Linked DNA regions of Homo sapiens. The protein of the gene in region 4 purifies or fractionates together with the protein of the main gene of each other region. This does not show direct contact. Each region holds a gene or a part of one and is shown on either strand. Other genes may lie near its edges. The genes, in order: DSTYK, PLEKHH3, PPFIBP1, TACR3, NUP35, ATG2B and ATL3.

Region 1 (3,698 bases), on a different chromosome or scaffold from region 4:
TTGCAAATTAGCCGGGCATGCTGGCACGCACCAGTAATCCCAGCTACTTGGGAGGCTGAGGCAGGAGAATCACTTGAACCCGGGAGGCAGAGGTCATGGTGAGCCGAGATCACGCCACTGCACTCCAGCCTGGGCAACAGAGCGAGACTCTATCTCAAAAAAAAACAAAAAAAAAAACAAAAAACAAAGATGAGTCGCACATCTGCTGCTGGGATTTTCTAGGGTTGTCTATGACAGAATGACCATCTTTTAAATATTAATGGAGTATAAATGGAGTCTATAATGGGTCTTTCATATAACTTTTAACTCTTTGGCTATCCTGGGCTCTGATCATGATATGTTTGAGCATAGTAGCTCCCTAAACTCTTGGAGCCTTTCAGAAATTCCATGTAGTGCTAATAACCTTTTTACTTGCAAATGATAAAGTAACTGACTCAGTGTCTTTGGGCTCTGCAGGCTTTAGCCTTGTTTTGGTAGGATGTTCAGTATATTCTCAGAATTTTTACCACCTATTTAGCTATACTTCAAGTACTCTATTCTCTGCACTAACTTACTGTCCTTCTGGGAACTATGATGGGGCTTCAAGGGAGTCAGGTGTCAAGAAAGGAGGGGTAAGTACTCTCTACTTGCTGGAAAATCATTGTAAGTCTGTTGTGTATGAAATTTTAGGAAAAGTCTTATATAGTTCCCTTTCCAGACTGTTTTCTTTTGACTCTAACTATAATCATAAGTCTGTGCTTCCATTATGAAGGTCACATTCCTAGCATTCTTGGGAAGTATTAGCTCATACTCTCATTCACATATGGGAGGTTAGATTTTTTTCCTCTACCCAGAGTCCCTTTTTAGTTTACCCCACGGCTTAGTTTGCTGTCAGATACCAGTTCTCTAGCAGATTCCCCAACAGTTTTTTCCCCAGTGGGGAGGGTGGAAGGGAGGGACTGATATAAGTAAGGAGATGAGTAGTTGTGTTACAGTTCATTTTCTTTAAAAAAAAGTATTTTGAGAAAAGGTGCAAAATATTCTTGAAAGTCTCTAGGCCAGCCAAAGTCCACATATGGATATTTGGGGATGTTATTTAAATACTCAGCAGGCTGAGTGCAGGTATACGTGTGTATAGAGTGTGTATACTTTGCTTTTGTTTTATAACATTGTCAGCTAATTTTGGCTTTGTTCTTTGGCATCCATTCTTATTATAAGTGATGGAATGCCATGAAATGTACTGTATTGTATATTACTTGGGAGGACACTAGGTTTTCAAAGAAGTCTGGCAGCACTTGGGTTATAGAGGGCTCAGCATGACCAAAGTCCTAAAGATTTTACCTCCCAGCTTTGGTTGTATGTGTTCCCAAGTGGTGAGGTGAGATTGTGGCTGGAGGAAGAAAAAGGATGGCATGAAAGAATGACCCTTATTGTGGTCTGTCCTTCTAATCAACATAATTAGGGCAGCTTACCCCAACATGAAAATGATGACCTGGCCATTTTTAATGGCCAGAGCTTGAAGTCTGGTCTCTCATTTTGTTTCAGAAATGAGTGAGAGGCCTTCCTGCAGAGCAGTCAGGAGAAATGGTGGAGCCTGGGGCCCTGGAATGGCTGACCCTGTGCCTAGAGAGCTGATGGCAAGGGCTGTCTGGCATGGCTCATTTGGGTGGGGTTTCCCCAGGCATACCTTAGTTCCCTGATCCTCTGCAAAGAGTAGCTCATTGACTGAGCAAGCGCTTCAGGAGGACTGTGCTGGTTGTTCCCAGACCAAAGAGAGTCACTTTTGACTCCATCAACTTCAAGGGGACAGAGCCTAGGCAGCAGATTCTCCTAATTTTTAACACTAAAATTCAAGGAAGCAGTGGAGGAAAGAATGCATTACTACCACAGATAGAAATAGGGGACTCATAGAACTCTCGACTAGTACCTGTCAGCTCTCAAATGCATTCTTGTGTCTTTGCTTGAGCTGCCAAAGAAGGGTCACAAAGTGTTCTTCCTCATGGAAGAAGTGCCTCGGGGTTGCAGGGCTGCAAAGTGACAACTGCACTGAATGACACTTTATTTTTTGGCTTTGGCTTATTATTTAGCACTGGGAGGCCCAGGGGAATTGGTGATTACAGTAGCACTTTGGGAAGTTAAAGCCCCCTTTGGGCTTGCTTTGGAGAGATGATGGCATGCTTGGTATTCCATTTGGATAATCAGGAAGCCTCCCTAGTCCATCCATATTGTGTCAGAGTGGGATTAACAACCCTGGAAGAGTCCACTGCCAAAAGAGTAGTTGCTTTCCTGGAATTTCCAAAGCTTTTGGATTTTCTGGATCAAGTAACCCACTTTTTAAAACCTGAGGTCAGGAGTTCGAGACCAGCCTGGTAACATGGTGAAACCCCGTCTCTATTAAAAATAGAAAAAATTAGCCAGGCATGGTGGCGGGCACCTATAGTCCCAGCTACTCAGGAGGCTGAGGTAGGAGAATTGCTTGAACCCAGGAGACAGAGGCTGCATTGAGCCAAGATCACACCACTGCACTCCAGCCTGGGCAGCAGAGCAAGACTCCATCTCAAAAAAAAAAAAAAGAAAAAGAAAAAGAAGGTTAATCCTTCAGTTATGGAGGTGGGATGAATAGAGCTTGTTTGATGTTAAAGTGGGTAAGGAGGGAGTGGCCTTGAGACACTTGTATTCCAAACTCTCCTGGAGGTTTCCAGTAGCACTACTGTTCCTAAAAGGGTTTCATTTTTAACTTCATCTGTTTTGTTAACATCCAGTCCAATTGAGGTGATCTCAGAGGTGCATCAGGACATCTAGCACTGGGGAGGCCACCTTGCCCAGATAGTTGAAAAGAAAATTGGTCTGGGCAGCCTGTTGTCTTTTGTCTTCATGTAATGTTTTTTCTTTGTTTTAAAGGACTAATGTTTATTACAGTGTTAAATAAAAGTGTAAGATACTAAGTGTGTAGAATAAAAGTGCAATAACAAAAGACAATGACTTTGGCACACACTTCAGTCTTTATCCTCTCTCCTTTCTTGTGCTACCTGGCTCTTTCCATAATATTGTTACAGCAGGACCGTCTTAATTGTGTGCATTTTGAAGAGATGCGACTCTGGGTTAATCTTCATTAGTGTAATATTGAAGGGTTGGGTTTGGTTTTATAGAGTATTCTGTATACTTGTTGGGATACACAAATACCAGATGTGCTGTATAATAAAGATCACATTAACGTTTTAGGTTTCTATCTGTTTGGTTTTGGTTTTCCCTTACCTCACTACCCATAGTAACAGGACGTTCCCTAATCCATTCCATTTCCACTGGTGACCTTCAGTCAGATGTCTTTCAGTTTGCCTTAGGAGAGATGGATGGAACATGTTCCTCTCCCATCAGGGGCCCTCCCCAGCCACCATGGCTCTTGGCCTCTGGGTACTTTACATCATCACTACTGAAGGGTGGGGCAAGGGAATGGGAGATAGGATAGTGGAGAAAAGGGGTGAGATGATAGTCATGTATCTTCCAGAGCCTATCCTGGGTGACATGCTTTTTTCCAGCTTCTTTTAAGCACGAACCTGCAGCATTGTGAGTTCATATATGAGCCTAGCTACTCTATTATAATACATGGTGAGGGAACTGGGCACATAATCTTACGCTGGCCTATCTGCATGTAGTGTATTTTGCATTTTCTATTTAGGCTCACCCCAGTGCTGAGATTTGCTTGCTCAGCAGTGCCTGAC
Region 2 (3,290 bases), on a different chromosome or scaffold from region 4:
GCTGCAGAAGAGGAGCGGACGAAGCGCTAGGGAGAAGCCGGACCCCTACGGCGAGGGCAGCTTGGGGTGGGGGCGGGGCCATGTGTTTGGGGCGGGGCCTGGGCGGAGCCGACAGCGGAGGTGATGCTGCAGTCGGACTGCAAACCTGCGGCGGGCAGGTCCGTCTGTAAACCAGCGAACACCACAGCGCAGGGCCAGGGGCAAGCGCTGGATAATGTCCGCTTAGAGACTGACCTCAGCTGAGAAGTGGATGGGCTAATAGAGAGCAGGGCTGGGGCTGGACATTTACTTCTCAAACCTGGTGAGCACGTCGGCCACGAGGGTCCCCCCAGCCAGGGCTCGCTCCTGGGCCCCTCGCTGCTCGTACAGCGCGAATGCGTTGCGGCTCCGGGCCAAGCCCAGCCGCCCCACCAGCTCTCGAGCCACCTAGAAGAGGAGGGTGAGGGGAGACCACTCAGAGGTCTTGCCAGGATTCTGGGAGGGGTTGATTCAATTGGAAGGGGTCTCTTAGTCCTGTCACCACCACTCCCTCCCTTACCAAAATAATCTAGACTCGGGGCAAACCTAGGGTCCAGGAAGAGGGAGAGACAGGCGTGAGAAGCTGGCAGGGTGGGTTGGAGGTCATGGGGCCTTTCTCTGGCCTCACCTCCCCCGCCGTGGTGTGGGAGTCGATGGCCACAGCACAGGCACCAGCCCCCGGACAGTGCACGGTACACAGCAGCTCCTGCCGTTGGCTCAACGCGGAAATCTCCGCCAGCGAGGGCACCAGCTCTCTGCCGCGCGTCCGGCCCAGCGCTTTCCGGATGAAGCGCGCATATTCCGCCAGTTCCGAGTCCGGGAGTGCCTGCTCGGTCCTGGGTTAGGAGGAACCCAGGGATCAATACTCCAAGGGCTTTCTTCTCCCCCTCCCTCTTGCCTGCTTCTCTTATAGTTTATTTTATCTAGCCGATTTCCTCCCCGCCCCAACTCAAGTTCTTTGAAGGCTCTTCTAAATCTCTCCCCAGTGCTTTGCATAGAGCTGAATTACTTTTCAAGTCCCCTGGCAGCTTTCTCCCAACTGCCTCCACCACTTCCAAAAGTCTTCGTGATCTTCCTTCGGCCTGAAATCGAAATCCAGCCACTTTACTACATTTTCCTAAGCCCTGGCGCTGGCCTGCATCAGCTGGAGGAAAAGCAGCCTTTTCATAACTCCTCAGCCCAAGGGGGGCGTTTTATTGTAATTCATCCGCTCACAACTGCGATAGGATCTTGTATCTCCCACAAAGGCACTGTATGTATTACTCGGTTCTTTACCTACCAAGTCTTTTGCAAAAGACCTTTCATTCTCTCCCAGCCCGGTAGCTCCTCGCCTAGGCCGTAACCCCCACCTCGCCCCTCTCACCTCTCCAAGTGCCCCAGGAGGTGCCCCCGCACAGCTCCCCCAGGTCGGAAGGTGCAGCTCATGCAGGTGAGGAGTTGCCAGTACCGCAGGGCCGCAGGGTCTTGGGTAGCCGGGAGCCCGGGGGGACCTGCAGGGCCCGAGGTCTGCTTAGCCAGCTGCAGGAAGAGTTCATCCCGGAGCGCGGGCAAGTCCCGGCAGGTTTGGAGCACACCCTGCATCAAGGGCCCGGGGCGCCGCGCCCCCTCCAGCGCCTGCAGCGCCAAGAACAGCCGCACCGCCTCCTCGCGCAGGGGTGCATAGCCCGGACCTGTGGGAGGGTGGGGGCGGAGGGACGGTTTGGAGAGGGGACACAGAGCTGCGCCCTGGGAGGAAGGCATGAACCAGGGGAAGGTCAGAGGGAATATAAGGGGATGGGGTGGCAGGGAGGGGAGGGTACGAACGACAGGAAGAGTGAAGGGAAAGCAGTGGTCCCACGGAGCCAGACTCTCAACCTCTGCCTCCCAGGAATCCCCTTCCCAATCCCACTAAGCCTGCATTTGGACTTAGGGAGACGGACGGCCGGGAAGGGCTGTAGATTCACACCCCAGATTCTGTAACTCCATACTGAGGCTCACCACCATAGGTCAGAAAACAGGCTGGACTAGGAGTCAGAAAACCGGGGTTCCTCTCCCAGCACCCTTTAATCCTCTAACTTTAGGACCTGGGCCAGTCACTACACCGTTTAGGGAGAAGTACAGTTGGATGAGGCCAGCACATTCTACAAAAGTGGTAGCTTTTCTACCACTTGTAAAGGTAATATGGCATAGTCTCAAGAGGATAATGAAAAAATAGGGGAGTGTACAAACTCCTGAAGGAACATCAGTAGTCAGAATGAGACCCATAGAGAAGGTGGCCAAAGGGGGCCCTTTTGTGTGTGCTGGCTTCCTCTCCTCCACCCTGGCCAGCTTCCAGTTTCACCTTCATCCTTCGAAAAGTGAGGAGCTGGCAGGTCCATGAAGGATGCTTAGATCCCTGCCAGTTAAGGGATTCAGATTCTTACCTCTGAACCACCCCATCCCATCCAGGGGACTTGGGCCATGGGACCACTCACCTGGGGCGCTGACTCCATAGGGCAGGGGCAGGAGTGGGGCATACAAGGCTCCACTAGTGTGTCTCAGAATCGGGTTCCTCAGGTAAATGAGGGCAACGGCCTCTGGGTCCCCGCAACTTTCCTAGGGGGCCAGGGAGAGGGTCACCTTGATGGGGAAGGGAGTTCCTCACAACCCCAGAAAGCTTTGGGGTCCACCACTCTCCTGGCTCTCCCTGGTGTGTACCTGTATGTCCCTGAGCAGTAGCTGGGTGGGGGTCTCCAGGGGTGCCTTGGAGGCGATCACTTCCCGCAATGCCACCCCCCAGCGCTCAGCCTCTGCCTGGCGTGGGGAGCAGAGGCGGACACTGTGTTTCCGACCAGACACAGTCACTGACCACAGACCTGGGGAAAAGAGAGGCCAGGGAGGGCCATTAGGGTCTGCCGGGGCCCCTGCCTAGGAAGGTAGGAGAGTCCCCAGGAGGTCTCACCTGTCTCCTTACGCCTGCGCTCTGGGCCGGTCACCGAGCACAGGCTGGTGAGCACGAGGCTCCCGAGACGCCGCGCCCCTTTCCCGCTGCTGCTGAACTGATCCAGGGAGTCCCGCGTGAGCACAAACCAGGCTCGGCGCGGGGGCAGCCAGGGCCGCGCCCCTCCTCCGCGGGGCTCCCGGTACAGCCAACCTGGGGGCCGGAGAGGGAGGGAAGGGACATCAGTAGAGACATTAATCCCTAGGGGGTTGGGATTGGGGGCCTCCAGAGTGCACTGAGGGGGGTCTCTACCTTTCACAACGATGTCCGGGTCGTCCTCCGGCAGCCCTTTCTCCGGGATGAGGCTCCAAGT
Region 3 (3,500 bases), on a different chromosome or scaffold from region 4:
TTTGGGTCTAGCCCCATCTCTCTACCCTGGACCATGCACTCATTCCTTCCTCCCTTTTTCTTCTTTTAATATCCTCCTCTCTACCTGAGCCTTCCTCAAACCCAAGCTATCTACCATGTCTCTCTCGGATCAGTTCCTTGAAAGGATGAACTAACCAGGCCACCTGCAGTTCATCAGCCCCCGTGTAGTCCTCAATTTTTTGCATTCTGGATTCCAGGTTCATGAACTGACCTGACAGCAGGACCAGGGACAGTCTGTTGGATACAGCTTTGTAACGAGTCTGTTGCACTGGATGGCATGATTAGTTCACTTACGTTGTGCTTCTTCCCTTGGCCACCATCATCCTCCACTTCTCTGCAGATCCTGCTCTATCTCCTCTCCTAACTTCTTTTTTGCCTGACCATTTCTAAATATCAGGAGTCCCCTGAAGACTGTATGCTTGCTTCTCTTTTTACTCTACATACTCTTGTTCGGGGAGCTCAACCATTCTCACTCTTTACATAACAGCCCTATAGAGATGATCCATTAGTCCAGGCTTTGGCCTAAACTCCAAGCCTAAATTTCTAAATTCTTGCTTAACATCTTCATATGAATAATGTCAACTAACAGTTCATACTGGCTTTTAACACCCCAAGTACAGAACCATGCCAGAGGTAGGACTATGAAGAGGCTGAAGATACTGGCCCTGGAGCTGCACCTGCCTGAGTTCAAATTCTGAGTCTGACACACATGATCTGTGTGATCCTGGGAAAGTTACTTAGCCTCCTTGTGCCTCAGATTCCTCATCGTAATATGGGATTAATCTAGGTTGAAATATTTAAGGTGCTTAGAGTAGTGCTTGGTACATAAAAAGTATAACCTACCAGGTAAGTGTTACCTATTATTATTGTTATTCTCCTAAAAACCTGATAAGATAGGTATTATTATTTTATCCATTTATACAATGAGAAAATTAAGGATAATGTGGGTCATGATGGAATTTCAAACTCCAGATGTTCAAATCTTAACTCATATTTCCCATTAAAATTCAACTTTCACTTAGCCAGGCATGGAGGCATGTCCCTGTAGTTCCAGCTACTCGGGAGGCTGAGTCAGAAGGATTGCTTGAGCCCATGAGTGCACAATGATCACAACTGTGAATAGCCACTGCTCTCCAGCCTGGGCAACATAGCAAGACATCATCTTTAAAAGAAAATTAACTTTTGTATACGGGCCATTCTTGATTTAGGGTGTTCTGTCCTTCTCCCTCCCCTTGCCCATATACCCACTAGAAATACCCAATCTGCTATTTCCAGAGTCATTTTTATAAAACAATAGTTCCCTTACTTCTTCTTTTCTTAAAAACATCCTGTTTTAAGGTACAATCTTGTCACTCTCTTTAAAACCCTGTAAGATTTGCCCCAATATAGCTTACGTCTTTTCAAACAATATTGTTCTCTCTTTTCTCTAAATCGAATCTCACTCTATTCTACATTTTGCTCCAAACCCAAGTATGCTCATCTGTCCCCACTGCCTCCTCAAAATCTCCTCCCCACCCTTTAAGACCCAGTCAAATCCCACCTCTTCTAATGAAACCTCAAGAAACCCAGTCTCTTCCTTTGCTCTGGTGACTAGTCTAGTTCACAGAATGCTCTTCCCCAACCAACCTCCAAAAGGACCAATAAATAGATGTTTAAAATTTTAACATATTTTGTATTTCTCGAGTAATGTAATATAGATGTAATATACTGTAAAAAAAAAAAAAAATACAAAGTTCCCTTCATCCCAACTCCCATAAGCCATCCCACTTGGCAGTTTTTCATGCACTGACAAATGTAAACCATACACGTGTGCTTGGTTTTTTACTTCTTAAAATATATATAATAGACATCTGTACAAGTCAGTATATTCAATCTTTTTAACAGCTAAACAGTATTCTAAATCTGCATTTTATTACAGTTATGAATAAGGTGTGCCATCTCTTTCTGCCCCCATCTCCTGTATGTGAATACTCTTAAGGTAAAGATCATGTTTTGTTTGTCTTTCCGTCTCCAAGAGGATCTTGTACCAAGGCTGGGAATTGCTTAACACGTGCTTAATGAAATAGTAACAACAATATCTGTCATCAAAGCAGTGCATGTCGTGTGCCAAGAAACCAGCTGTTAGTGCTTCACATACATTATCAGATGTAATCTTCATAACCACCCAATTATTCCCATTTCACAGAAGACTTAACCAAAATCACACAGCTAGTAACAACAGGGGATTCTAATCCACATCTGTCTGACTCTGGAGTCCCCGCCCTTCATCCCTATGCTATAGTTAATAAAATTTTTATAAGGACATCCTTATAAACCAAAGCTGGAAAACAGAAGAGTTCCAAGTAGTCTGGTGTGGGCAGGTGGGAATGAGGATAAGAGACAGGAGGCGGAATAAATGCCAAGTAGATGGAGTCAAGGGATTGTAGCTATAAACCTACCGAGAACCTTCTAGGAGAAAGAGCTGAATTCTTTGCCTCCCCCTTTCAGACTCCCCACTACACTTCCCTTTGGTAACAGTGCCACCATTTGTTGAAGATCTTCCATGTGCTGAATATGCCATTATTATTCCTATTAATAATTTCTGGCCGGACGTGGTGGCTCATGCCTGTAATCCCAGCACTTTGGGAGGCTGAGGCCAGCAGATCATCTGAGATCAGGAGTTTGAGACCAGCCTGGCCACGATGGTGAAACCCTGTCTCTACTAAAAATACAAAAAAAAAAAAAAATTAGCTGCTCATGCTGGTGGGGACCTGCAATCCCAGCTCCCTGGGAGGCTGAGGCTGGAGAATCGCTTGAACCCAGGAGGTGGAGGTTGCAGTGAGCCGAGATTGCAACACTGCACTCCAGCCTGGGTGACAGCACGAGACTGTCTCAAAAAAAAATAATAATAATTTCTAATTATTTCTAATCCTTCAAAAAATGCTATGGCACATATATCAGAGCTACCATTTTATAGATGAGAAAGCTGAGACCCAGAGAGGTTAAGTTACTTGCCAATATTAGACTGTAATAAATAGCAAAGCCAGGATTCAAGTTGAGGATCTGCATGGCTCCAAAGTCCTGTTTTTCTCGTACAAAATAACACGTTTTTATTTTTAAAGAAAAGATGAACTATGATTTTTAGACATCTAGACTCAGTTAAGATCACATTTGGCTGCAAGTAACTGACCCAAGTTCTGTGGTTTAACCAAGTAGAGATTTTATTTTTCTCACAGAGTCAAGAAATGGGTCCAGTAGAGCAGTTGCAGAATGCTATCAGCTTCTCAGCCTCCTTCTAACCTTCCACCCACTCATCCTTAACCCTCAAGCATCTTGTCTTTGGTCACGCGATGGCCTGCTTACTTTCTCCAGGGAAGAAGTACAAAGAGCAAAAGGCTTAACAGGCAAGCTCACAGAGGCTTCCCCTTTTAAGAGCTTTGGGGAACGGGGCATCCAGCTATTTACATCTCATCAGCCAGGACTACTGTCACTGAACCACCT
Region 4 (3,500 bases):
CAGGAGCACCCAGATTCATAAAGCAAGTCCTTAGAGACCTACAGAGACTTTGACTCCCACACAATAATAATGCAAGACTTTAACACTCCCCTGTCAACATTAGACAGATCAACAAGACAGAAAGTTAACAAGGGTATCCAGGAATTGAACTCAGCTCTGCACCAAGTGGACCTAATAGACATCTACAGAACTCTCCACCGCAAATCAACAGAATATACATTCTTCTCAGCACCACGTTGCACTTATTCCAAAATTGACCACACCGTTGGAAGTAAAGCACTCCTCAGCAAATATAAAAGAACAGAAATTATAGCAAACTGTCTCTCAGACCACAGTGTAATCAAAATAGAACTCAGGATTAAGAAACTCACTCAAAACTGCTCAAGTGCATGGAAACTGAACAACGTGCTCCTGAATGACTACTGGGTAAATAACTAAATGAAGTCAGAAATAAAGATGAGAACAAAGACACAACATACCAGAATCTCTGAGACACATATAAAGCTGTGTGTAGAGGGAAATTTATACCACTAAATGCCCACAAGAGAAAGCAGGAAAGATTCAAAATTGACACCCTAACATCACAATTAAAAGAACTAGAGAAGGAAGAGCAAACACATTTAAAAGCTAGCAGAAGGCAAGAAAAAACTAAGATCAGAGCAGAACTGAAGGAGATAGAGACACAAAAAACCCTTCAAAAAATCAATGAATCCAGGAGCTGGTTTTTTGAAAAGATCAACAAAATTGATAGACTGCTAGCAAGACTAATAAAGAAGAAAAGAGAGTGGAATCAAATAGACGCAATAAAAAATGATAAAGGGGATATCACCACTGATCCCACGGAAATACGAACTACCATCAGAGAACACTATAAACACTTCTACGCAAATAAACTAGAAAATCTAGAAGAAATGGATAAATTCCTGGACACATACACCCTCCCAAGACTAAACCAGGAAGAAGCTGAATCCCTGAATATACCAATAACAGGCTCTGAAATTGAGGCAATAATTAATTGCCTACCAAACAAAAAAAGTCCAGGGCCAGATGGATTCACAGCCAAATTCTACCAGAGGTACAAGGAGGAGCTGGTACCATTCCTTATGAAACTATTCCAACCAGTAGAAAAAGAGGGAATGCTCTCTAACTCATTTTATGAGGCCAGCATCATCCTGACACCAAACCCTGGCAGAGACACAACAAAAAAAGAGAATTTTAGACCAATATCCCTGATGAACATTGATGCAAAAATCCTCAATAAAATACTGGCAAACAGAACCCAGCAGCACATCAAAAAGCTTATCCACCATGATCAAGTGGGCTTCATCCCTGGGATGCAAGGCTGGTTCAACATACGCAAATCAATAAACATAATCCAGCATATAAACAGAACCAATGACAAAAAGCACATGGGTTATCTCAATAGATGAAGAAAAGGTCTTTGACGAAATTCAACAACACTTCATGCTAAGAACTCTCAATAAATTAGGTATTAATGGGATGTATCTCAAAATAATAAGAGGTATTTATGACAAACCCACAGCACATATCATAATGAATGGGCAAAAACTGGAAGCATTCCCTTTGAAAACTGGCACAAGACAGGGATGCCCTCTCTCAACACTCCTATTCAACATAATGTTGGAAGTTCTGGCCAGGGCAATCAGGCAGGAGAAAGAAATAAAGGGTATTCAATTAGGAAAAGAGGAAGTCAAATTGTCCCTGTTTGCAGATGACATGATTGTATATCTAGAAAACCCCATCGTCTCAGCCCAAAATCTCCTCAAGCTGATAAGCAACTTCAGCAAAGTTTCAGGATACAAAATCGATGTGCAAAAATCACAAGCATACTTATACACCAATAACAGACAAACAGAGAGCCAAATCATGAGTGAACTCCCATTCACAATTGCTTCAAAGAGAATAAAATACCTAGGAATCCAACTTACAAGGGATGTGAAGGACCTCTTCAAGAAGAACTACAAACCACTGCTCAATGACATAAAAGAGGACACAAAGAAATGGAAGAACATTCCATGCTCATGGGTAGGAAGAATCAATATTGTGAAAATGGCCATACTGCCCAAGGTAATTTATAGATTCAATGCCATCCCCATCAAGCTACCAATGACTTTCTTCACAGAATTGGAAAAAAACTACTGTCAAGTTCATATGGAACCAAAAAAGAGCCCGCGTTGCCAAGTCAATCCTTAGCCAAAAGAACAAAGCTGGAGGCATCACGCTACCTGACTTCAAACTATACTACAAGGCTACAGTAACCAAAACAGAGATACATACCAATGGAACAGAACAGAGCCCTCAGAAATAATATCACACATCTACAACCATCTGATCTTTGACAAACCTGACAAAAACAAGAAATGGGGAAAGGATTCCCTATTTAATAAATGGTTCTGGGAAAATTGGCTAGCCATATGTAGAAAGCTGAAACTGGATCCCTTCCTTACACCTTATACAAAAATTAATTCAAGATGGATTAAAGACTTAAATGTTAGACCTAAAACCACAAAAGCCCTAGAAGAAAACCTAGGCAATACCATTCAGGTCATAGGCATGGGCAAGGACTTTATGACTAAAACACCAAAGGCAATGGCAACAAAAGGCAAAATTGACAAATGGGATCCAATTAAACTAAAGAGCTTCTGCACAGCAAAAGAAACTACCATCAGAGTGAACAGGCAACCCACAGAATGGGAGAAAATTTTTGCAATCTACTCATCTGACAAAGGGCTAATATCCAGAATCTACAAAGAACTCAAACAAATTTACAAGAAAAAAACAAACAGCCCCATCAAAAAGTTGGCAAAGTATATGAACAGACACTTCTCAAAAGAAGACATTTATGCAGCCAAAAGACACATGAAAAAATGCTCATCATCACTGGCCATCAGAGAAATGCAAATCAAAACCACAATGACATACCATCTCACACCAGTTAGAATGGTGATCATTAAAAAGTCAGGAAACAACCAGTGCTGGAGAGAATGTAGAGAAATAGGAACACTTTTACATTGTTGGTGGAACTGTAAACTAGTTCAACCATTGTGGAAGACAGTGTGGCGATTCCTCAAGGATCTATAACTAGAAATACCATTTGACCCAGCCATCCCATTACTGGGTATATACCCAAAGGATTATAAATCATGCTGCTATAAACACACATGCACATGTATGTTTACCGCGGCACTACTCACAATAGCAAAGACTTGGAACCAACCCAAATGTCCATCAATGATAGACTGGATTAAGAAAATGTGGCACATATACACTATGGAATACTATGCAGCCATAAAATATGATGAGTTGTCCTTTGTAGGGACATGGATGAAGCTGGAAACCATCATTCTCAGCGAACTATTGCAATGACAAAAAACCAAACAGCGCATGTTCTCACTCATAGGTGGGAATTGAACAATGAGAACACATGGACACAGGAAGGGGAACATCACACACTGGGGCCTGTCATGGGGTGGGGGGAG
Region 5 (3,500 bases), on a different chromosome or scaffold from region 4:
ATTTAAAAAACTACAAACAAATATCAAACTCTAGTTAATGACATGCATGCTCAAGTGTCAGGGTAATATGTATTGATGTCTACAACTTATTATGAAATGTACCAACAAAAAGAATGAATTGATAGATGGATAAATGACAAAGCAAATGTAGCAAACTGTTAACCATAGAACCTAGGTGGTAGTAATATGGGTGTTTGCTATGCACTTCTTTCCATTTTACTGTATGTTTGATTATATTCATTATAAAATGTTAGGGTGGGGTTTTTAAAAGGCAAATGGTCTGCAAACCTTACCCAAATACAGTCACCCAAGAGTCATCGAGGTGATCTTCTGAAGTCAAAGAATCTCCTTGAGTATAAAAAGGATCCAACTGGGCAGGAGATAATGTCGTCTTTCGTGGCTGACCGATACTTGCTGGACTAAACATACTTTGCCCTATATTAGTATATTTAGCAAGTTAGTTGCCAGTGTAAACACCTCGATTGATTCTAAATCAAAAATCTTAGTTTTAAATGATAAAGTCTAATAAAGTTGGCAATTACATAAACAGTTCAAAACATACAACTGTGGTCAAATAGCAATTTCATGCTACCATACAATTAGAGGAAGTAATAATTGGGCATAGTTTATAATTCTGCAAATGTTTTATTATGTATGATAAATTATCTAAATGTTTTATTAAGCATGTCTGGTTAAGCTGACACCAGAAGGATATCCCAGGCAACCTCAAAGACTTCTGTTGGTTTCATCTTCCAAACCTACCACTTTCATCACAGCACCTCTGCCTTAAGAACATGTAAAAATGTATTACCCACAGAACAAAATCCGAATGCCTTGGCCTCAGCTATACAGTTGCAACCTTACTTTTCCAGTATGCACTAAACAATATCTACCTTACCCCTTAAAATGTGAATGCAATTTTCTTTTATTCAGGTCATTTCTTTCTAAAATGTCTTATCCTTTTATTTCTTATTCTTCAGTAACAGCCACCAATTGAGTACTTCTGTGTGTCCAACATGCCATGCTAAACACTTTATAAAGTTCATTTTATATCAGAAGCAATGTCCAATTAAGGCTATACATTTGAGAGAAGCAAAGACTATTTCCCTTTCATCTTCACAGTAGCAATAATGATTTACTCATTCAAAACATATTTTATCAGCACTTAAATATGCACCAAGCATCAACCTAGGTATTGAAGGTATAGCAGTAAACACATTAGACAAATAAAAACAAAAAATCCATCCCTATTGGAGCCTACATTCTAGCGAAAGAGAGACAAATAAGTAAATACTTAATGTGCTACAAAACTAAAAATCCTACAGAGAAAAAAAAATAAAGCAGAGAAGGGAGACAGGGCCAATTTGTGTGGGTGGGTTAAATGAAAAAGGATTTCACTGAGGTGCATTAAAGCAAAAACCTGAAGGACAAGGGAAGCAAAACAATATTTGAAGAAGTGAACATTTTGTGGAGAAAATAATAAAACAAAGGCCATGAGGAAAGACATGATTGGTCTTAGATGAACGCAAGAAGGCCACTGTTTGCACAGTGAGGGGGATGTGAGATGAGAACAAGGAGATGCGAGCAGAGAGGCAGCAATATGCCGGATCATGAAGAAAAACCTTATAAAGCCACTGTAAAAGCTAAAGCTCTAAGCGAGGTAGAAAACCAACAGAAAAATCTGAGCAAGCGTGACATAACAGGACTAAAACTTTGATAGTAAAAGGTAGCATTTTAAGGGCCAGGCCAGTGGCTCACACCTGTCATCCCAACACTTTGGGAGGCCAAGGCGAGCGGATCATGACGTCAGGAGTTTGTGACTGGCTTGGCCAACATGGTGAAACCCCATCTCTACTAAAAACACAAAAATTAGCCAGGTGTGGTGGTGCATGCCTGTAATCCCAGCTCCTCTCAAGGCTGAGGCAGGAGAATCGCTTGAACCCGGGAGGCGGAGGTTGCAGTGAGCTGAGATAGCACCACTGCATTACACCCTGGGTGACAGAGAGACTCTGTCTCAAAAAAATAAAAAAATTAAAAAAAAGGTAGCATTTTATTAAGTGATTATTACACTTTACGAGTGTAATTTTATTTAATTCTAACAATCCTACAAAAGGTCCAATTAGTCCATTTAACAAATTAGGAAACAGGATAATATTAAATAACATCCAGAAGGTTAGTTGGAATTCCAATCCAGGCAATCGGAATCCAAAGCATGAGCTCTGAGGCAGTAATCTAGTTAACATGTTTATTTCCTGTGGCAGTACTACAAGTGTGGTCTGGAGATTCTTGGCTCCCCCAGGACTCTCTCATGAGATCAGCCAACTCAAAATTATTTTCACAAAAACATGAAGTTTCATTTGCCTTTTTCTCAGTCTCTTATTAGTGTACAGTGGAGTTTTCCAGAGGCAACTTCATGTGATTCAACAGACTCAGGTTGAAAAGAGAAGCAGATTCATGAGAATTCACAGGTATTTTATTAAGCCAGACACTAAAAAGATTTTTAAAACAAAAACAATGTCACTCTTCCTGCAAATCTTTTTTTCTTTAGAAAATAGTTACTGTTCACTTCAAAAAAGATTATGTTTATATGAAATAGCTTTATTTTTAAATGAGTTAATACTTAAATTTTAAATTTTGTTTTAATTTTGAATGCAGTAAATATTGATAGCTATAATCTATATAAACAAAAGCTCTTTAATTTTTAAGAGTATAAACAAGGTAAAAACTACAAAACTAAGACATTTGAGAACCACTGTTCTACAGGTCAATGCGCATGAGTCATGCTCCATTTTTATTGATTTTCTAGAGGCTACTTAACATATTCTAACTATTGTATGTATCTCCTGACTTGCCATTTATCCTTAATTCCCAAATGAGTTGAAAACCATCCTAACTCATTCCAAAGTGTTTATAGTCACATGGATTTCTCCAAGTATGTTCTTAAGAAACAAAAAAGATTATCTATAGAAGGTGGGGGGAAAAGCTACTGTGATAAAAAGCTTGGCTTTGCACTGTGGCTCGTGACTGTAATCCCAGCGCTTTGGGAGGCCAAGTTAGGAGTTCAGGACCAGCCTGGGCAACATGGCAAAACCTTATCTCTACTAAAAATACAAAAAATTAGCTGGGCGTAGTGGTGTGTGCCTGTGGTCCCAGCTATTTGAGAGGCTGAGATGGAAGGATCACTGGAGCCTGGGAGGTGGAGGTTACAGTGAGCCAAGATCATGCCACTGCACTCCAACCTAAATGACAGAGTTTAAGACTCCATCTCGAAATATATCTATAGATATATTTGATAAAAATAACCTGTTAAAGAAGTGGGCAAAGAACATGAATAGACATTTTTCAAAAGACATACAAATGGCTAAGAGGTATATGAAAAAATGCTCAACATCACAAATCATCAGAGAAATGCAATTCAAAACTACATCATCACCTTACCCTAGTCAGAATGGCTATTGTTAAACAAAAAAACAAACAGATGCTGGCGAGGATGCAGAGAA
Region 6 (3,500 bases), on a different chromosome or scaffold from region 4:
ATTTAACCTCACAGTAAACAGAAAGTTAGTACCCAATTTAGAGTAAAATAATGTATGTAAAAGCACCCACACAGTACAGTATATAGAGATGGAAGGTATTTAATAAATGATCATTATTATTTTCAAAAGTAAACTAAAACCCCTAACCTTGCTCCATGTTCCCCCTAGCCATCAACCCCATTTTCTCTGTCAAGGTAGTTATCTGCTCAAACTGCAAACTACAAGCGACCTTCTAACCCTCAGCTCCTCTGAAACTGCTTGTAACCACCATTAAAATGACAAATGCAATAAACAATATTTAGTCCTCATCTTTATTGAATTCTCATCTCTACCTAGTTCCTAGGACCACTCACCTTTTTTGAAATTCTAACTTCCCTTGACTTCTGTAACACTTCACTCTCTCAATCTTTTTTCTGATCCTTTACAATTTAAAATGTTGGAGTTCATCTAAGTTTCATCTTCGGCCTTTTTTGTTTCTCAAGCTGATCTACTTACTACCCACGCACTTTGTGCAGTTCCATCTCCTGCCACTGTTATTCACTATTGATACTCTGATAACTCCCATATCTTTACAACTGCAATCTTCCTATACGTATATTCCCAGTGCCTCCTGAGCTTCTCTACCTGGATCTAAAGCCCCCACATTCTAAAGCCCCCTCAAAAATCAATATAGTAAAACTTATTCTCTGTCCAATCTCAATCTCCTCCTCCCACTCCCAACTCCAGACAGTGGAGAAAACCTGCTCCTTCTCTAGAATTTCCTATTTCACCATCAACTAGGTACCACAAGTTACGGTCATCAAGGTTCTTCCCTCTACTTGTGTTTTTCAGATTTTTTCATAGTTTTTTTTTTTTAAGAATGTTTGACACATTCCATTAAAAAAATGGCCCATCATAAAAGACTTCAAAAGGTAAGTAGAACTGCTTGCTTCATGTATTAAGTATTTCCACAACTAAAAGTTTGAAACTTTTGTACCATATTGTTATCTCTGGAAGAGATGGGATTAAGCTCTATTACTTCATACCTCATATATTTCTTTACTGTTTGAATTTTTTGTAATGAGCATATATTAATTGTATAGTAAAAATGAACTATTAAAAACCTAACAGTGTTTAAAACATATGGAGGCAATGACTTAGCTTCTGCAAACTGTCAACCTTAGACAACTATGAGAGAAACGGGACTTGATGGAACTCTCTTCTCAGTAAACACCAAGTTTTCGTCCCAATTTTGTGGCAGAGAAGTTGAAATAAAGTTAAACCTCTAAATACAAAAAGGTTTATTACAGCAGTGAAGAGTAATATTAAAGGGGCCTGGTACGGTGGCTCATGCCTGTAATTCCAGAAACTGGGGGGGGCTGAGGTGGGAGGATCACTTGAGCCCAGGAGGTCAAGATCAGCCTGGGCAACATAGTGAAATCCGGTCTCTACAAAAATTAAAAGAAATTAACTGGGTGTGGTGGTGTACATCAGTAGTCCCCACCTACTCAGGAGGCTGGATTGGAGGATCGCTTGAACCCATGAGTTTGAGGCTGCAGTGAGCTGATCACACCACTGTACTCCAGCCTAGGTAACAGAGACTGTCTCTAAAGAAAGAAAAGGAAAAAAAGAAAAAAACTGATAAATGTTAACAGTTTTGGAGAGTCAACAGTTCCAGAATTTACATTGCACCACTAAGCTACAAAATAATTTCCCTAAGTATAAGATGTTTAAATAGGTTATATTTATGCCCAGTCTTATAACCACTTGAGCAAAATCCCATATATCTTGTAGCATAAGGTACCTTGAAATTCAGTCATTCTGGGAAAATCCAAGGCTACTATAGTATATGAGTAGTAAAAATTCTCAACCTACTTGGCTCAAGCAACATTTTCCACACCAGTCCTATGAAGTGTTTCCTCACCAGTCCTATCAAGTATTTTTTTTTTTTTAGTCACCACTATGCTAACGAGAAAATAACTCTTAAACTAAAAGTGGAGACACCTGAACTACTCAGCAAATAAATGCCCCACCATAGAGTCCTTTAGAGCTTTTTATTCTTCTGTTTAAGGGTATTTTGCTTTCAATTATCATCAATGAGTTTCACGCATATAAACAGAAAAAGTGAAGGTAACACTCTAGTCTCCAGGTGACCTTTGACAAATAATCAGTAATCAATGTTTCTTGAACTGAAGATAATTTTATTAAACACCAAGAGAATATAAGCAGCAATCGAAACATTCTTAAACTGAAGTTAAAAGGCCTCAGTGGCCAGGCGTGGTGGCTCACGTCTGTAATCCCAGCACTTTGGGAGGCCGACATGGGCAGACTGCTTGAGTCCAGGAGTTCAAGACCAGCCTGGGCAACATGGCGAAATCCCGTCTCTACAAAAAATACAAAAAGTAGCCAGGTGTGGTGGCATGCACCTGTAGTCCCAGCTACTGCAGGGAGGGGAGGAGAGGTAGGAGGATCGCTTGAGCCTAGCAGGTTGAGGCTGCAGTAAGCCTAGATCACGCCACTGCACTCCAGTCTGGGTGACAGAGTGAGACCCTGTCTCAAAAAAAAAATAAAATAAAAGGCCTCAGTGTAATAAATTGTTAATGTGTATCTTCTTGAGCTCCTGTAAGAAAAGGGTCTTTGTTTAGTTCACTGCTATATCCCCCAGCCCCTCACAGTGGCACATGCTAAGAGCTCAATAAATGTACTGAATCGATTAATGAAAGAAATTCCATTTAAAAATCAAAAATAAAGGCACAGTCATAGAGTTAAAAAGGAATGAGTCATTAAATCCAACTTCCCACCCCAAATAGAATTTCCTCCTTTCAACATTTTGCCATTTCAACCACTTCTAGGGACAAGGAGTTTATGAAATTTTTAGACAGTCTATTCCAATGATGGAACAATCCCAAACCCCTTGCCTCTATTTCTCCCTCCACTTCATGCCACGTTTAAGGTAGTAATCTCCAAAACTGGATGCATATATCCTAAAGTATTATCAGATGATTCATAAGGATGTGAGAGGAAAATGAGACATTCTATATTAAATTTTCCAAATTTAGATTGAAAAGTTGTACTTATATTTAATATACAAATGGGCACTGGCACCTTCCTTCAAGCCACATATCAAACTGGTACAAAGAGAAAACTAGTAGTTCCACAACAGAGAAGGATTAAGAGTGGTGCCCTCAGTTGGATGTTCCTTCCACTTCTGCACACTGAAACATTTCCACATACATTCTATAGAATAAAACCAGACCTTTAAACAGTAGAATCTTTGTAAAGAGAAAGTGAATGGCAATTACCTTCTGGTTTCCTGGTTTCTCCTATGGCCAAGTGTTTAAGGGTTGGATTTAAAGATAAGCATTTTCCTTTTACACAGAGAAGAATTCTCCACTGACTATTTATGTATTTATGACAATGACTATCAGTAGTACATGCTACCTAGCAGATATTTTCCAAAAAACAAAACATACTTAATCTGTCTTTTCAAAATAAAGATAGCACTTTAATAATGAGTAAGA
Region 7 (3,500 bases), on a different chromosome or scaffold from region 4:
ACTATAGAATTAATAGCTTCTAAAACTTTTTGAGTTATTACTAGTGATATGCAAAATACAACCACCTAAAGATCTTTTTGAGCTTATATCTAGGACCTGTTGGGCAATATGCTGAACCTTCATAAGCCTTCATTTCCTTCTTTTTTTTTTTTTTTGAGACCAAGTCTCACTCTGCCACCCAGGCTGGAGTGCAGTGGCGCGATCACGGCTCACTGCAGCTTCTGCCTCCCGGTTCAAGCAATTCTTCTCCCTCAGCCTCTTCAGTAGCTGGGACCACAGGCGTGCGACACCACGCATGGCTAATTTTTTTTTTTTTCTGTATTTTTATAGAGACGGGGCTTTACCATGTTGGCCAGGCTGGTTTTGAACTCCTGACCTCAAGTGATCAGCTTGCCTTGGCCTCCCAAAGTGCTGAGATTGTAAATGTGAGCCACTGAGCCTGGCCATTTCCTTCTTCTTAAAATGGAGCAGTATTATTTACATCAAAGAGTTGTTCTGAGGATTAAATAATATATATATATGTGTATATATATATCTAAATAAAGCTTAGCAGTGGCAAACACTATTATTGATAGACATTGTTTTATTTCCACTTTTGGACTGTTTTGAGTAAAGCTGATAATGAACTTTCTGTTTTTGAGATAGAGTCTTGCAATATTGTCCAGGTTGGTCTTGAACTCCTGGGCCCAAGTAATCCTCCTGCCTCAGCTCTCCAAGTAGCTGGGACTATATGTGCGAGCCACCATGCCCAGCTCAACATTCTTGTATATATGTTTTTTGGTGGACATAGGCATTCATTTCTCTTAGGTGTATACCTAGGAGTAGAATTGCTGGATCACAGATATATTTAATTTTTGTAGATACAGCCAAACAGTTTTTTGAAGTGGCTTTAGTATTTTGTGCTCCTATCAGAATGTGTGAGAATTGCGGTTGCTTCATACCCTGTCCCACAGTTGATATTGTCAGTCTTTAAATTTTAGCCATTCTGATGGGCAGGTAGTGGTATCTTATTGTGGTTTTAATTTAGATTTCCCTGTTAAGTAATGATATGGAAGTACCTTTTAATAGGATTTGTATATCTTTTTCTTACAAAGTGCCTGTTATTTTTTTCTTATGGATTGCTATGTTGATGCTGGATGTGGGTCCTTTGGAAACAGATATTGTGAATACTCTTCCCTAGCCCATGGCTTGCATTTTTACTTATTGAAGTCTTTAAGTGAACAAAGTTTTTAATTTTAATGAAGTCTGTGTTGTCATTTTATTTTCTTTTATGGATAGTACTTTTTTTCTTTGAGACAGGGTCTTTTTTTTTTTAACAACATTTTATTTTATTTATTTTTTATTATTATTATACTTTAAGTTTTAGGGTACATGTGCACAATGTGCAGGTTAGTTACATATGTATACATGTTCCATGCTGGTGTGCTGCACCCATTAACTTGAGACAGGGTCTTATCTGTCACCCAGGTGGGAGTGCAATGGCATGATCTCGGCTCACTGCAACCTCTGCCTCCCAGTTTCAAGTTATTCTCGTGCCTCAGCCTCCCGAGTAGCTAGGACTTACAGGTGCGTGCCACCACACCCAGCTAATTTTTGTATTTGTTGGTAGAGATGGGGTTTCGTCATGTTGGCCAGGCTGGTCTTGAACTCCTGACCTCAAGTGATCCACCCACCTCGGCTTCCCAAAGTGCTGGGATTACAGGGGCGAACCACTGTGCCCTGCCCTTTTATGGTTAGTATTTTTGTGTCCGTTTTTTGTTTTGTTTAGTTTTGTCACCCAGGTTGGAGTACAGTGGTGTGGTCATAGCTCACTGTAACCTCAAACCCCTGGGCTCAAGCAGTCTTCCTGCCTCAGCCTCCCAAGTAGCTAGGACTACAGGTATACACCACTACATATGGCTAATTTTTTAAATTTCATAGCGCTGGGTTTCACCGTTTCCCAGGCTAGTCTGAAACTCCTGGCCTCAAGTAATCTTTCTGCTTTGGTTTCCCAAAGTGCTGTGATTATAGGCATGAGCCATTGAGCCTGGCCCTGTCCCCTGTTTAAGAAGTTTTTGTTTTCCCTATATTCAAAAACATATTTTAAATATTTGACACTGATTTTTTTTCTCTGCATGAACATAGATGATGCCATGGAGAGCAGCAAGCCTGGTCCAGTGCAGGTTGTTTTGGTTCAGAAAGATCAACATTCCTTTGAGCTAGATGAGAAAGCCTTGGCCAGCATCCTCTTGCAGGACCACATCCGAGATCTTGATGTGGTGGTGGTTTCAGTGGCTGGTGCCTTCCGAAAGGGCAAGTCCTTCATTCTGGATTTTATGCTACGATACTTATATTCTCAGGTAAGATAGAATTATTTTATTTCAAGTAAAAAGTGAGACTTTAATGTCCAAAAAAGCGAAATAAGCTCATAGATTATCCTTGATGCATAAAATTTTTAATTTAAGATTTAATAGAAATTTCTTACTTCTGTAGAAGGAAAGTGGCCATTCAAATTGGTTGGGTGACCCAGAAGAACCGTTAACAGGATTTTCCTGGAGAGGGGGATCTGATCCAGAAACCACTGGGATTCAAATCTGGAGTGAAGTTTTCACTGTGGAGAAGCCAGGTGGGAAGAAGGTAAGGATGAAAATGACCTTACAGATTAACAACAACAACAACAAAATATGAACTTCAGCATGTACTGTGTTAACCCAATTAAAAACCTTTTATCAAAGAATTTAAAATGGGTAAAGTAAGAAAAGTTAAAAAGTCCCTGTTTTGTCCTGAAATTTTAGTCTGTTGTGGATAAATAGGATTTTCTGACACAGGTATGCGAAGTTGTAGCTCTGATGTCTAGCTGTAGTCTCCTTGGTCTGCTGATTGCATTATTTTAATTTTCTTTTCTGGAAAAACATTTTTGCTAAAAGCTATACAGACTTTTTTGTTTGTACCTAGCAGTACTTTATGTAGTATTCCTTAGGGCTATGTAGCATTTTTAGACTCAGTTAAAAAATATTAATCTGTTGCTGACTCTGTTAATTCCTATTTCAACATGTGTTTCCTTGAATAATTCAGGATACAACTTACTGTGTATGACAGCTTTCCTTCACACACTATTTTTGTGGGTGTGTGTATATCCAACTTGGGGAGAATTTAAAAAACACATAGCTTTTTAATTTGTTTGAAACAGACCTTCTGCCTGTTACATTTTGTGCTCTTAACCAATTAAAGAAGCCAGTGGCAGCCGGGTGCTGTGGCTCACGTCTGTAATACCAACACTTTGGGAGGCCAGGGTGGGCAGATCACAAGGTCAGGAGTTTGAGACCAGCCTGGCCAACATAGTGAAACCCTGTCTCTACTAAAAATACAAAAAATTAGCTGGGTGTGGTGGTGGGTGCCTGTAATCCCAGCTACTTGGGAGGCTGAGGCAGGAGAAACGCTTGAACCCGGGAGGCAGAGGTTGCAGTGAGCCGAGATCACACCACTGTCCTCCAGCTCGGGCGACAGTACGAGACTCCGTC

Evidence for each region.
Region 1: the proteins of TACR3 (region 4) and DSTYK purify together in Homo sapiens (affinity purification with mass spectrometry; one large-scale study listed by BioGRID and IntAct). This does not show direct contact.
Region 2: the proteins of TACR3 (region 4) and PLEKHH3 purify together in Homo sapiens (affinity purification with mass spectrometry; one large-scale study listed by BioGRID and IntAct). This does not show direct contact.
Region 3: the proteins of TACR3 (region 4) and PPFIBP1 purify together in Homo sapiens (affinity purification with mass spectrometry; one large-scale study listed by BioGRID and IntAct). This does not show direct contact.
Region 5: the proteins of TACR3 (region 4) and NUP35 purify together in Homo sapiens (affinity purification with mass spectrometry; one large-scale study listed by BioGRID and IntAct). This does not show direct contact.
Region 6: the proteins of TACR3 (region 4) and ATG2B purify together in Homo sapiens (affinity purification with mass spectrometry; one large-scale study listed by BioGRID and IntAct). This does not show direct contact.
Region 7: the proteins of TACR3 (region 4) and ATL3 purify together in Homo sapiens (affinity purification with mass spectrometry; one large-scale study listed by BioGRID and IntAct). This does not show direct contact.

What each region holds. Positions count from the first base shown.
Region 1 is NC_000001.11:205,142,005-205,145,702, reverse strand, and holds the end of DSTYK (dual serine/threonine and tyrosine protein kinase), read left to right. Parts: 3' UTR 1-3,198; downstream 3,199-3,698. UniProt on the Homo sapiens protein: Acts as a positive regulator of ERK phosphorylation downstream of fibroblast growth factor-receptor activation. Involved in the regulation of both caspase-dependent apoptosis and caspase-independent cell death.
Region 2 is NC_000017.11:42,670,705-42,673,994, forward strand, and holds part of PLEKHH3 (pleckstrin homology domain-containing family H member 3 isoform 1 precursor), read right to left. Parts: coding exon 3,230-3,290; intron 3,131-3,229; coding exon 2,939-3,130; intron 2,853-2,938; coding exon 2,695-2,852; intron 2,593-2,694; coding exon 2,472-2,592; intron 1,689-2,471; coding exon 1,382-1,688; intron 855-1,381; coding exon 647-854; intron 427-646; coding exon 290-426; intron 2-289; coding exon 1-1.
Region 3 is NC_000012.12:27,530,706-27,534,205, reverse strand, and holds part of PPFIBP1 (liprin-beta-1), read right to left. Parts: intron 1-3,500. UniProt on the Homo sapiens protein: May regulate the disassembly of focal adhesions. Did not bind receptor-like tyrosine phosphatases type 2A.
Region 4 is NC_000004.12:103,709,986-103,713,485, forward strand, and holds part of TACR3 (neuromedin-K receptor), read right to left. Parts: intron 1-3,500. UniProt on the Homo sapiens protein: This is a receptor for the tachykinin neuropeptide neuromedin-K (neurokinin B). It is associated with G proteins that activate a phosphatidylinositol-calcium second messenger system.
Region 5 is NC_000002.12:183,148,443-183,151,942, reverse strand, and holds part of NUP35 (nucleoporin NUP35), read right to left. Parts: intron 436-3,500; coding exon 294-435; intron 1-293. UniProt on the Homo sapiens protein: Functions as a component of the nuclear pore complex (NPC).
Region 6 is NC_000014.9:96,356,842-96,360,341, forward strand, and holds part of ATG2B (autophagy-related protein 2 homolog B), read right to left. Parts: intron 1-3,500. UniProt on the Homo sapiens protein: Lipid transfer protein required for both autophagosome formation and regulation of lipid droplet morphology and dispersion.
Region 7 is NC_000011.10:63,657,877-63,661,376, reverse strand, and holds part of ATL3 (atlastin-3), read left to right. Parts: intron 1-2,124; coding exon 2,125-2,339; intron 2,340-2,414; exon of another isoform or gene 2,415-2,472; coding exon 2,473-2,616; intron 2,617-3,500. UniProt on the Homo sapiens protein: Atlastin-3 (ATL3) is a membrane-anchored GTPase that mediates the GTP-dependent fusion of endoplasmic reticulum (ER) membranes, maintaining the continuous ER network. It facilitates the formation of three-way junctions where ER tubules intersect.